2 linked regions of the Homo sapiens genome follow. The protein of the gene in region 1 purifies or fractionates together with the protein of each later gene. This does not show direct contact. Each region holds a gene or a part of one and is shown on either strand. Other genes may lie near its edges.

The links. Proteins that work in one complex are often made in the same cells at the same time.
Region 2: the proteins of SYPL2 (region 1) and CYB5A purify together in Homo sapiens (affinity purification with mass spectrometry; one large-scale study listed by BioGRID and IntAct). This does not show direct contact.

The regions. Positions count from the first base shown.
Region 1 is NC_000001.11:109,473,046-109,476,545, forward strand, and holds part of SYPL2 (synaptophysin-like protein 2), read left to right. Parts: intron 1-2,535; coding exon 2,536-2,660; intron 2,661-3,500.
Region 2 is NC_000018.10:74,264,464-74,267,963, reverse strand, and holds part of CYB5A (cytochrome b5), read left to right. Parts: intron 1-3,500.

The DNA.
Region 1 (3,500 bases):
AGCTAAGAGGAATAAAGAAACTTCTAAGAGGAATCAGATGGCCACAGAACTGACAAAAGATTAGCGAATTCCTATGAGGAAGAGTTAGAGAAGTTCCACTATTACAATGGTGAGGCCACTTTGAGTAAGTAAAGGGTAATGATGCAGAGGCTTCGAGTGACTCTTCTCTACCTCTGTGAAGAAGGCGGGCAGACAGGGCTCTACTGCAGTCTTCATCATTTAATTCAGGAGAGGAGGGTATTTAGGCATTGGAGGGAGGTTTTACTGTCTTCTTTCCCAGATATCTTTAAACATGGAGACAATTCTCATTTGTCTGGAATAAACCTCCTGAAAACAGAGAGGTGCCCATTATTTGGAGAGAGGCCAATGGCTCCAGCATGGAGATCTGCAAGGCCAGGCGCTGCAAGCCGGGGGCAGTGGCACTGGACACCTCGCAGGGGCAAAGCACAGCTGTTGGCAAGCCCAGTCAAGAGTACACTGACAGTGTTACTCTCAGAGAGTGAGAGAGTTCCAGGGCTGGAAAGGGCCTCTAGATTATCTACTCCAAACCCCTCCATTTAAGATGAGGAAACAGGCTGGGCTCATGCCTATAATCCCAGCACTTTGGGAGGTTGAGGCGGGCGGATCACAAGGTCAGGAGACCGAGACCATCCTGGCTAACACGGTGAAAACCCGTCTCTACTAAAAAAAATACAAAAAATTAGCTGGGCATGGTGGTGGGCGCCTATAGTCCCAGCTACTCAACAGGCTGAGGCAGGAGAATGGTGTGAACGCAGGAGGTGCAGCTTGCAGTGAGCCAAGATTGCGCCACTACACTCCAGCCTGGGCGACAGAGCAAGACTCCATCTAAAAAAAAAAAAAAAGATGAGGAAACAGACTCAGAGAGCAGAGTGACTTATCAGAGCTCACCTGGCTAATTAGTGACAGGACCAGGTCTGGAACCTAGGTTTCCATACTCCTAGTTCAGGTCTCCTTTCACTCCATAATGCTAACAAGCATTGGCAAAATAAAGTGCATATAGCTTCTATTCTAGACTCTGGATGCAGGGCTGACATACAGATCAGCTGTCTTCCAAGTGCTTAATGTCCAAGACACTGAGTCTCGAAGAAAGATACAGAGAGTGAACAATTAAGAGAATAAGCTCATTGCTTAATAAGAACATGACATTGTGTACAAGTCAAAGGTAAGTGCACAGGAAATCCAATCTGAGCAGATGATGTGGAGGATAAGACATTTCAATTTCTCACCTCCTTTTCTTTTTTCTTTTCTTTTCTTTTCTTTTTTTTTTTTTTTTTGGCGGTGGGCGGGAGAGGGACAAGGTCTCATTCTGTTGCCAGGCTGGAGTGCAGTGGCACGATCTCGGCTCACTGCAACCTCCGCCTCCCGGGTTCAAGTGATTCTCCTGCCTCAGCCTCCCAAGTAGCTGAGATTACAGGCATGCGACACTCTACCGCCAGGCTGATTTTTGTATTTTTAGTAGATATGGGGTTTCACCATGTTGGCCAGGTTGGTCTCAAACTCCTGACCTCAAATGATCCACCCGCCTCAGCCTCCCAAAGTGCTGGGATTACAGGTGTGAGCCACCGCACCTGGCCTCTCACCTCCTTTTCTAACCAAAGTGTGTTTCCCAGAAAGAAATCTGAAAATCATAGGATGAGGAAATTTTATTTCACTTGAGAGAGAAGGTGTAGTAAAATGTGAGGAAAGGTGGAGAAGAAAACAATTCGAGTGACCTGAGACACCTCTGGATCTTAACACTGAGAAATGGCAGCATCAACAGATGACAAAGGGAAATACCAGTGGGGAAACAGTGGAGACTGATAAGGCAAGTGGAGGGTACTTTTCTCTGGGCTTGAGCCAAGATTGTCACATTGGCCCAGCCAGCACTATTGCTAGAAGGCCATGTGCCTTTTGGGGAAGAGGAATTAGGCTGTCAGTACTATGGGACAGTAGTATGGCCCATCTGGGGTGGCTTGGTAGAAGCTGGCCCCTCCAGCTATACCTCCACCAAGGCAGGAAGCCACTGGAAGTTAGCAACTAGGAAACAAGATTAGATGACTAGTTCAAAGGAGAAATGAAAAGCGTTCTAGGCATGTCTGATCTAGGTTGATGCAGGGGAATCTTTTTGAGTGTGTCTCTCCCTTGGGAAGGAAATTCAAGTCTATCTGTAAGCTAGAAGTTTCCTAAAGCCTGAATTGCAGAGGTTTTGTGTTAGTCATCTTAAGGAGGCTACCTGTGGTCCCCAAGTCATGCCCAATGGAGAGATCTGGCAACTGTCCATTTCCTGCCTCTTCATCTCCCTTGCAGACACCACTCAGTCAACCTTGTATTCATTTGGCTATTTGGTCCAGCAGCCTGAGGCTGGAAGATAAATGGAAGCCATGGGTTTCTACCTAGGAAGAACTTGATTAAAGGGGATCCTCACTCTCCCCCACTCCCGCACTTAATGTCTGCACCTGCGGGGAGTCACGGTTAGTTCTCGACTTTGGCCAGTTGAGGCCTTCTGACTCTCAAAGAGGCTTCACTCTCTCTCAGCTCTTTGCTATTTTCGCCTTCGGGTCCTGTGGCTCCTACAGCGGGGAGACAGGAGCAATGGTTCGCTGCAACAACGAAGCCAAGGACGTGAGCTCCATCATCGTTGCATTTGGCTATCCCTTCAGGTGAGCAAGAATTGGTTCCAACCCAGCACATCATCTCTCACTTGACTGGCAGGACCTGCTTGGTCTCTTCCTCCTCCAGAAACCTAAAAACCATTCATTGCGTGCCACTCCAGATTCAAATAGAATGACAAAACTTAGATCCTTTCTGCTTTTTAGCAATTTCAGACACATTGACCAGAGCAAAACGTAAGGGAAATACAGATTGATCACTGTTATAATAATGTTCCAGTCCATGGACAACCCATGGCAGGTCACACCAGCTCATACAGAAAGAGCCAATGCAGTTTGGGATGGAGGCTTACAGGAACCTGGACAAGCTGGACAGGTCTCTCTGACCCTCAGTAGCCTCCTCTCTGCCTTGAAGGTAGGGAAGCTTATTAGTACTTACATCCTAAAGAGTTGATGTGGGATCCTCAGCCAGTACGACCAGGATACAAGTGGGCACACCTTGACAGGGAGGTAGAAGTGATCTCTTTTCTGGGTATTTGAGAGCTTAGGAAGTAGGGAGCCCAGGTGTTCAGGGGAAAATGGGGATGAGGCTCACCTTTTCAGAAATTTCTAGTATCAGCACCCAAGTTATATTAACTGTCTCATATATAATAGGCTGTGTTTTTCTCTTTAATTTGTCCACTGTCTCATTGGAAAGCCCAATAAAGCCTGAGAATGGGTGATTCCAACCTTATCTTGGCCACTCTGGGCCTGCACTTTCCAGAGGCAGAATGAAGCTGATCTGCCTAGTGGTTTGGCTACCAGAAAGAGAAGAACTACATATATTGCAGTTGTGACCTAAAGGGCCCTGGAGACACTTGGGAATACATGGTCACCATGTCTGGGCAGGGT
Region 2 (3,500 bases), on another chromosome or scaffold:
TGCCCATCCCCACTTCTGGGTCCTCCTTACTGACCCGCGACATCCTCTCCCCACCTTTCTCCCTCTCTCTGGGCACTACAGCTGGTCACTTCCCACACATGGTCGCATGAGTAGAGGCTTAGCAAGGAGTGCGTTATGGAGGACAGATTTCTGCTACTGACTTCGCCGAAGTGGATCCACAGCTTCCATTTGGCTCAGGCTCTTTGGGAGAATTTCACTTCTTTTGTTACCTCTAATCTTACCTATGTGTAACCACACATTTTGGTCTTTTTCTTAAATCTTTTAGATAATCATCAGATAAGTTTACTTACCTGTTATTCTACTACTTTCTGCCTTGCCTTTTCTTCAGGCCACCCCCAAGTGCTATAACCTGCCCAAAGGTTAGGACATAACACCGCTGCCACACGTTTATCTCTGGGCATAACCACGATGGCATAAACACCAGCATTCCCAATTTTTCTTTGTCTCTTCGGAATGCTGACAGGCAAAGAAGAGCATTTTCTTTAGTCTCCAAATGTGTGGCTCACGCCTGTAATCCCAACACTTTGTGAGGCCGAGGCAGGTGGATTACCTGAGGTCAGGAGTTCAAGACCAGCCTGACCAATCTGGTGAAATCCCGTCTCTACTAAAAATACAAAAATTAGCCGGGTGTGGTGGCAGGAGCCTGTAGTCCCAGCTACTCCAGAGGCTGAGACAGGAGAATTGCTTGAACCTGGGAGGCGGAGGTTGCAGTGAGCTGAAATTGCGTCACTGCACTCCAGCCTGGGTGACACAGCGAGACTCCGTCTCAAAAAAAAAAAAAGTGATGTGTGCTTATTAAAATTGCTGCATGTATTTACTAACAAGAGTGAGAAGATTGACAAGTTTCAAAACATGATTTAGATTCAGTTTACTTGGCCAAGTGTCTCTCTCTCTCTCTCCGTAATACATATATTTCAAGGAAAATATTAGATATTACAAAAAGCCACCCTCATCTTTTACTGTCTTATCAAGATGAGTTATTTTTTCCAAAATATCAATTTTTAGGATTTGATTTTCCTACCAATTATTAAGATAGACCTTTAGGATGGAGTGAAAATATTTTAGTATCAGTTAGTTTATTCTAAGCTATGTTTTTTTTTTTTTTAGTTTTTTAAATCTTTAAAATTTTACATGAGTTATCAGTGAAACCAATATAATCCAAGATGTTTCTCTCTCTCTCTTTTTTTTTTTTGTTAGAAAATTGCCCCACAAATGGTTTAGGCAAGGTAAAAACCAGAGGTCGATAGGTAGATTCATACATACCTATCCCTTGTTGCTGTTCTTGGTCAAAAATTAAGGTGAGGAGTTGCCCTGTTGTACTTCTGTTTCAGATTAAGACTGTGGAATTACCCCATGAAATTGAATGTGTATTTTCTCCATTTTAGCACTGTAAAGATCAGAATTCTGTATCTAAAAACTTGTCTAAGTCTGCAATTCTTTATAAAGGGCCAAGTCCATGTTTTTAACCTCACTCGAAGTCGTCCTTTGAACATCGGCTGTCCCTGGCAAATAATGATTGACTCTGGGCGATTTGTCTCCACTGACATATCCTTAACAGGAATCAAAAGTTACGGCAGCTCCTGAGTTCAGCGGTCCCTACGCGAGTAACAGCAGTCTGTGAGTTTACATAGTTGTGGGTCCTGGCTGAGTCATTTTATATCTCACCATGTGGCTTCTCTCTACTCAGTAGGTGAGTGGAAGTGTCCAACCTTAAGCAGACTTTTCTGGAATCAACAAAACCATGTTTTTATTGCTGCAGCCTTGGCGAGGAATCCAGAAGTTTCGGGTTGGCTTTGAGGTAGCCATTCTGTTGTCTGCACATCTAACGTGCATTCCCATGCCTGTTTAAGGTGGACTTTTAATAATCTAAATGGCCCCAGTAGAAGACATTTCAGTAAATTGGGGAATGCCTATACAATGTAACAGCATGTAGCCATGTCAAAGTCCCGTTGAGGAAGAATACTTAGTGACTGACATGGTTTGCACCTGTTCCCTCCAAACCTCATGTTGAAATGTGGCCTCCAGGGTTGGAGGTGGGCCTAGCAGGAATGTTTAGGTCATGGGGGCAGATCCCTTATGAATGGCTTTGTGTCGTCCTCACAGTAGTGAGTGACTTCTCACTTTGTTAGTTCAGGCAGAGTTGGTTGTTTAAAGAGCCTGGGACCACCTCCTCTCTCGCCATGAGATGTGTGGGCTCCCCCGGGCCTTCCACTGTGCGTAAAAGCTTCCCGAGGCCTCACCAGAGGCCGAGCAGATGATGGTGCCGTGCTTGTACAGGCTGCAGAACTGAGAGCCAAAGTAACCCCTGTTTTCTTTGTAAATGATCCAGTCTCAGGTATTTCTTCATAGCAGTACAAAACAGACTAACATAGAGACACTGGAAAGTGTTTAATAAAAATGCTGGGTAATAGTTACTGAGCATAAACGATGTGCCAGACACATATGTTCATAGATTTCATCCTCAAAAACTACATGCGTGTTTTCCCAAGTTCACAGAGTGAGTGGTAACCACTAGGCACCTCTGCCTCTGTACCATGTATCACCTCCTTTTTATTTTCTAAAACAATGCATAGGATAACCATCACAGTTTCTATCCAACATTACATACACATACGTGTGTGTGTATGTCTGGCTCTCTGGAGGCAAGATGATGGGTGATTTTAATTTTTTTCTTTGTGCTTCCCAGTTTTTCTGCAGCATAGATGGATAAATGTTATAAAAAGAAAAAAAAAGAGTGGATGTCCTTAGCACTAGGTATGTTTAGACCAAGTAGGAAGAGAAACAGTTTCAAATCAGAATAATGATCCACCTTCCTACAATGTGATGTGCCCTGATGTCTTCATTACTGGGAGAAATTAAGGACTGACCACAGTCGACTCTGCAAGGGAGACCGGTTTTTGTGCAGTTGTTGGACACTTGCAGGTGACTTGCTCAAGGTCAGGATGAATCTAAAATAACATTCAAGCTCAGTTAAAGAAGTTTTTTTTTTTCCTACAAAAGTACGTATTTAGGATGCTTTGCCCAAGCTCCGCTTTCTTTTTTATTACTCTGAGAGCTGCTTCCCTTGCCTGAGAATCCCCAGACCTCCTTACCTCTGTCCTGTGACTAATCCCCACTTGTCAATCATCTTGGAGAAAAAATTTCCCTCCCTGCATCATGACCATCCTTGTTTCACATATTAAAGCAGCTGAAAGCACTAAAACTCTTTTATTCCACAAGAGGCTCTTCCCGCCTCTCCCCAGTGTGGAGTTGAACCCCTGCCTCCGTGCCTCCATTGTGTCCTGGCAGCACTGTGTCCTGGTGGCAGCATCTTCAGCAAGTTACTTGTTTTGTTTTGTTTTTACCTACCAGAAAGTGAGTTCTGCAAAGGCAGGGACTCATCTATCTGACAGTCTGTGCTGCCCGTGCATTGCCGGCACGCAGGGTGCTTTCCAGAGGGAAGTGACACACGTGCCTCTTGTGAATCGTCATCTTAGGCA